Regions from separate parts of the Homo sapiens genome. Here region 2 is linked to region 1. The links come from fine-mapping of genetic effects on gene expression. Tissue or cell type: whole blood. Region 1 holds a variant in brackets; the other region holds the start of a gene. All regions are shown on one strand. Distances are from middle to middle.

Region 1 (2,688 bases):
ACCAAGAATCCAGAAGAAGTGTCTAGGATATTGTCTAGAAACTTCAAAAGACATCCTCCCCTAAAAGTCACTCGTAGAGACACTCTAATTTTACTATCTACCTGCAGAGAGACTTAAAGTTTGCATTATCATATCCAGATGTTAGGAGTCCAGATGTTAGGAGAAGACTCAAATGAAGGGTATAATCACCTGGCAGCTATGGTAACCAGGTAACCTGGGAGTTCTGTCAGGCCAATGGCACTCATGTTCCCTTCTCTACCTCCCTGACTGCTGCTGGGCTTGAGCCACACTGGGAAGTGGTGGGGTCATTTCTCACACGTGGGACCGTGGTTACTCTGCACTTTTCTCATTCTTTTGCCATTATGGTGGCAGCAGCTTTGGCATCAACATGCATCCTCACTGTGAACATGAAGTCACAGCCCGTGGCAGAATGCATGTTCTACTACTTCCTCTCCTGGAGCCCCCCGGTATTTCTAACTATTGGTTGGATACTGATTGGAATAAAAGATAACAAAGAACCCCACATCTGTGGTTGGCTCATGGCTTTAGCCATAAACAGGGGTGAATATTATCATATCATATAAACTCCTTGTCTTACTAGTCATCAGATCCTGGTCTGACCAATGGTCATTGTAGCCAGGGGCTACCAGTATATCTCTTTTGTATGATTTTTAGTATCTGTACCATTGGCTGGATGACACTCGCCAGTCAACTTTCAGCTTTTTTTCCTCCTTAAGGTCTTTTGATGGATGGTTAGAGGAGTAGACAGGTCTCGAGGCCTAGGTTTATCTCCATACAGCTTTTATTGTACCCCATCCTTTTGCCAAGCGTGGGAAAGATTCCTAAGTTGTCACACATCACAGATCTTTCTTTCACTATCAAACCTGTTCAATTATATTAGTTTCCTAGCACTGTTGTAACCAATTATCACAAACTAGATGACTTAAAACAACAGGAATTTGTATCACAGCTCAGGAGCCCAGAAGTCCAAAACCAAGATGGCGGCAAAGTTGATTTTTTTTTTTCAGAAGGCTCTATGTGAAAATCGGTTCTATTCCTCTCTCCTAGCTTCTGGTGGTTTCTAGCAAACCTCGGCATTCTTTGGCTTATATCTGTGCTATTCCCATCTCTGCCTCTACTGTCACATGGCTTTCTTTCCC[G/A]TGTGTCTGTATGTCTTCTCCTCTTATAAAAACACAGGTCAAGGCCGGGTGCAGTGGCTCACACCTGTAATCCCAGCACTTTGGGAGGCCGAGACAGGTGGATCACCTGAGGTCAGGAGTTCAAGACCAGCATGGCCAACATGGTGAAACCCCGTCTCTACTAAAAATCTAAAAATTAGTTGGGCGTGGTGGCATACACCTGTAATCCCAGCTACTCAGGAGACTGAGGCAGGAGAATCGCTTGAACCTGGGAGGCGGGGGTTGCAGTGAGCTGAGATTGTACCATTGCATTCCAGCCTGGGCGACAGAGCGAAACTCCATCTCAAAAAAAAACAAAAACTACAGGTCATTGAATTTAGGGCCTGTCTTTATCCAGTATGACCTCATCTTAACTTGATTACACCTGCAAAGATGTGATTTTCAAATAAGTTCACATTCACATAAGTGAACAATTTTTGTGGAGGGTATAAATCTATCTACTAGAACAAGTATCAAAATGTTACTGCCTACTGAGAGCCACCCTTTTTCCCTTTGCCTCACAGTTTCTTGTCTAAACTGACCTCAGGTTCTGAGAATTGGCATTGTATCATCATGCCACTACTCTGTGGTACACCCTCTGGCTGACCACAAGCAATAATTGCAGGTTTGTTTTGCCATTTGCACTCATGCAGCTTAACTCCACAGGGGGAATACAGGACAGGAGATATAGCATGCAGACAGGGCCGCTTCAGGTGAGCTCTCCGTGAGGATTCTTTTGTTTTGTTTTGTTTTTTGAGACGGAGTCTCGCTCTGTCGCCCGGGCTGGAGTGCAGTGGTGCGATCTCGGCTCACTGGAAGCTCTGCCTCCCGGGTTCACGCCATTCTCCTGCCTTAGCCTCCCGAGTAGCTGGGACTACAGGCGCCCGCCGCCACCCCTGGCTAATTTTTGTATTTTTAGTAGAGATGGGGTTTCACCTTGTTAGCCAGGATGGTCTTGATCTCCTTACCTCGTGATCCGCCTGCCTCGGCCTCCCAAAGTGCTGAGATTACAGGGGTGAGCCACCGCGCCCGGCCTCAGTGAGGATTCTTACGGTGGTACAAGACCATGTGACCATGTGGATGCGTGTGAAACTAACGTAGCTTAGGTAAATCTTACATCAACGGATTGATTCCCTTGTAAAGACCATGAACATAGCTTCCAGGGCCCTACAGAGAATATTTTGTTACAAGAGTCTCAATCCTCTTACGGAAAATGAGGTCTGTGCTTACCAAAAAGAATAAAAATAAAATAATATACCAGGGGATGGTGATGGCGATGTGTTTTTTATAGGAAGAAAGGACTTAAGCCTAATGATAACCTTTTTTTCCCCCACATGTCTAGTCTGACTTCCAATCTTATTTCCTTTACCTTACCCTACTTCCCACCCTCATCTGCTTCTCTCTGTTAACTTGTCCTGCATCCTCCCATCCCTGCCCCCACCTCCTATTCATTGGAAAGAGACTGTCACTTTTACTTCATTTAGGAAGTGTCACATATCCAGGTTCCTCT
Region 2 (2,688 bases), 33 kb before region 1:
TAGTGACACATGTCTGCACTTACGAGATTCCAATGACCTTTCATTTGCCTGGGGACTGTCCAGAGAAATCTCTTGATACTTAACCCAGCTCTCTCCCTACTGCCCAATCCTCCGTCCAGACTTTTGTATGGACACCCCAGTCCCTTCTCTCTCTATACCTCCCTCCCCAAGCCACCTTCTAAGGCAAGGTGATACTCACCTAATCAGTCTCCTTAGGGAGGAACTTTGACATTCTTTTTCTTCTCAGAGTTTCTGTGCTATTGAAACCCTGTAGTTAGAGTTCTGAGGCTCAATAAGCTTTACATGTATTCATCAGACCTAAATAAAAACAAAGATTGTCTTCTAGTTATATAGGTCAAAATTACAGATACACACACACAGCTTTATACATACATACGTGTAATTTTAAACTGATGAATTTTAATGATCGTTTGGCAAAACATGCCATTATGCAAAGGGGCTTTTACTCGTATAACTTTATATGTTTATTTAGACATTTTAATTAATACGTCTATATGGAGTACAGGTGTATTATCAGTGTAATTAAACTCTGATATGATATTAGAAAGCTACAGTACACTGCAGACAATTTACAAGGGTCATCTCTGGCCTGGTGTTCTCAAAGGCCTCCGGATTTGCCGTTCATCAGGTAAGATGAACAGCTTTGCGTTGCTACCTTCAAAAATTCTTTTTTTTTTTTTTTGAGAGAGAGTCTCGCTCTGTCTCCAGGCTGGAGTGCAACCTCCACCTCCCGGGTTCAAGCGATTCTCCTGCCTCAGCCTCCCGAGTAGCTAGGACCACAGGCGCGCCCAGCTAATTTCTGTATTTTTAGTAGAGACAGGGTTTCATCATGTTGGCCGGGATGGTCTCAATCTCCTGACCTCGTTATCCGCCCGCCTCGGCCTCCCAAAGTGCTGGGATTACAGGGGTGAACCACCGCGCCTGGCCTCAGAAACCATCTCCATCTCCCTTACCACCTGAGGGGTCACTGGTGACCACACCCATGGAATCGGCTGGATCTCCTGCGGGGCTGGACAATTTGACCCTCCTCCTCCCCAGGCCCCGCCCCTTCCCCCCTGAGTCTTTCGGCCTGGGTGGAGGACGCGGCTGCTTCAAGTCCTTGGCTCTGATCCAGGCCACAGATTCCAGGTTAGTGAGCAAGTTTATTTTCTGGCCAGCTACCGCTGTCCCCACTTGTCTGGAGAGTTTGACCCGCTCTGCAGGTCGGGTTGGGGGTGGTTCACGGGTGAAAGAAGAATGAGGGAGACTTCTGCATTTTCAAGTGAACTCAAGTTTGGGAAGGGAGCACAGAAGAGGCACCTTTGCAGCTGGGAATAGGCCGTGTAAAGAGAGTTAAACCTCTATTCTACAAGCTGAAGTATGTAGAGGAGGCAGCTCTGGAAACTGCTTTAGGGAATCACTGCAAACCATTTTGTCAGGCGTGGATTCAGAGTCAGCATCCCTTCCCCCCTTCCCCCGTTCTCCCCTTCCCCCCTTCCCCCTTCCCCCTTCCCCCTTCCCCCTTCCCCTCCCCCATCTCCAGCCTGGCCGCTCCAGGAAGTGAGCACCGTTTATCCCCCACCCCAGGCGGCCCGACTCCTCCCAGAAGGAGTTGGGAGATGAGCCTTCCGCAAACTCCTGACCTGTGGGTCCGTCCGTTCAACGGCCAAAGGCTGGCGGAGGAGGGATCCCCTGCCTTTCTCGGAACGGAACGGAGCAGAGTCGTGCGTGGTTGAGTTTAGATAAAAGCCGAGTGAGCGCGCTCTGTTCCTTAAGATTAGTTTAAGGTGCCTTGGATTGCTCTGAAGAGCTTTGACCACCTGATATTGCTTACATCTGGAACTTCTTGGCTTCTCATTCCCCAGATGTGCGGGTCAGAGAGGTATGTCTACCGTTCTGTTGACTGGCTCTTATTGTCACTTCTGGCAGAGGTGACAGGGCAGTGAAAGAGATAAGGTCCTTTCCCTTTCGGAACTCATTATATCTTTATTTCTTTTTCTTTCTCACTGCAAATGACCCCACTGAGGTTAGAGACATTTTAATCAGTCAGTCAATAGAGACAGAAATGTGTGGTTAGGAGCATAGATGCCGCAGCCAGACTGCATGTGTTCAAATCCTGACTCTGACAGACACTGGCTGTGTGCCCGAAGACTGTTAACTTGACTTCTTTGAGCTTTAGTTTCTTCCATCTATAAGATGGACGGAGTAATATGTATATCTTAGAGTTTTGGTGAGGATTGAGTGAGACAGATTTAAACACGTAGGAGGCTGCCTGACACAAATTATGGTCATTATTACTGGCAAACTCCATGCCTAGCTTTAAAAAAATGCACAATCAAAACAATTTTTAAATTATAGGTTTCTGAAATGCAGGGGGTAGAAATTCTTTTGAAGTGGAAATTAAATTTTTTGTTTTGAAACTGATTATGTTCCAATTCAAATATTTATTGAGTCCTGTTAGATAATCAATTGCAGATAATAGGTTAAATATAACCCTACACAAAGATAAAAAAAAATGTTATTCCTAAAGTGCAAGAACTCATGCCCAACTCACTTATAAATGCAACTGCCACCTATTTTATTCCACTTTCACTAGGGCTCCCAGCTGGTGGACGGGCCCGCTCTGTCATTCCTAACTCTGAACCCCCAGCCTACACCAGCCCCAGTATCCCCTGCTGAGTCACTGAT

What was found. PIP is the estimated chance that this variant, and not a neighbour inherited with it, causes the effect.
Region 2: TRIM6 starts here. The variant in region 1 is fine-mapped to the expression of TRIM6 in whole blood (TOPMed, PIP 0.96).

Annotation. Positions count from the first base shown.
Region 1 is chr11:5,627,793-5,630,480 of GRCh38, forward strand. The region is part of intron 7 of TRIM6-TRIM34 (TRIM6-TRIM34 readthrough); the gene reads left to right. All of the region lies in intron 1 of TRIM34 (tripartite motif containing 34), which reads left to right. It also overlaps a transcript of TRIM5 not described here. Among named protein-coding and RNA genes, the nearest start is that of TRIM34, 4.1 kb to the left of the region's middle. The variant G/A (reference allele first, on the strand shown) is at 1,161.
Region 2 is chr11:5,595,033-5,597,720 of GRCh38, forward strand. TRIM6 (tripartite motif containing 6) reads left to right here and starts at 1,605. Exons shown (of 8, transcript NM_001003818.3): 1 at 1,605-1,882. The coding sequence starts at 1,866. TRIM6-TRIM34 (TRIM6-TRIM34 readthrough) reads left to right here and starts at 1,605. Exons shown (of 14, transcript NM_001003819.4): 1 at 1,605-1,882. The coding sequence starts at 1,866. It also overlaps a transcript of TRIM5 not described here. RefSeq lists enhancers at 927-1,221, 1,376-2,293, 1,540-1,589.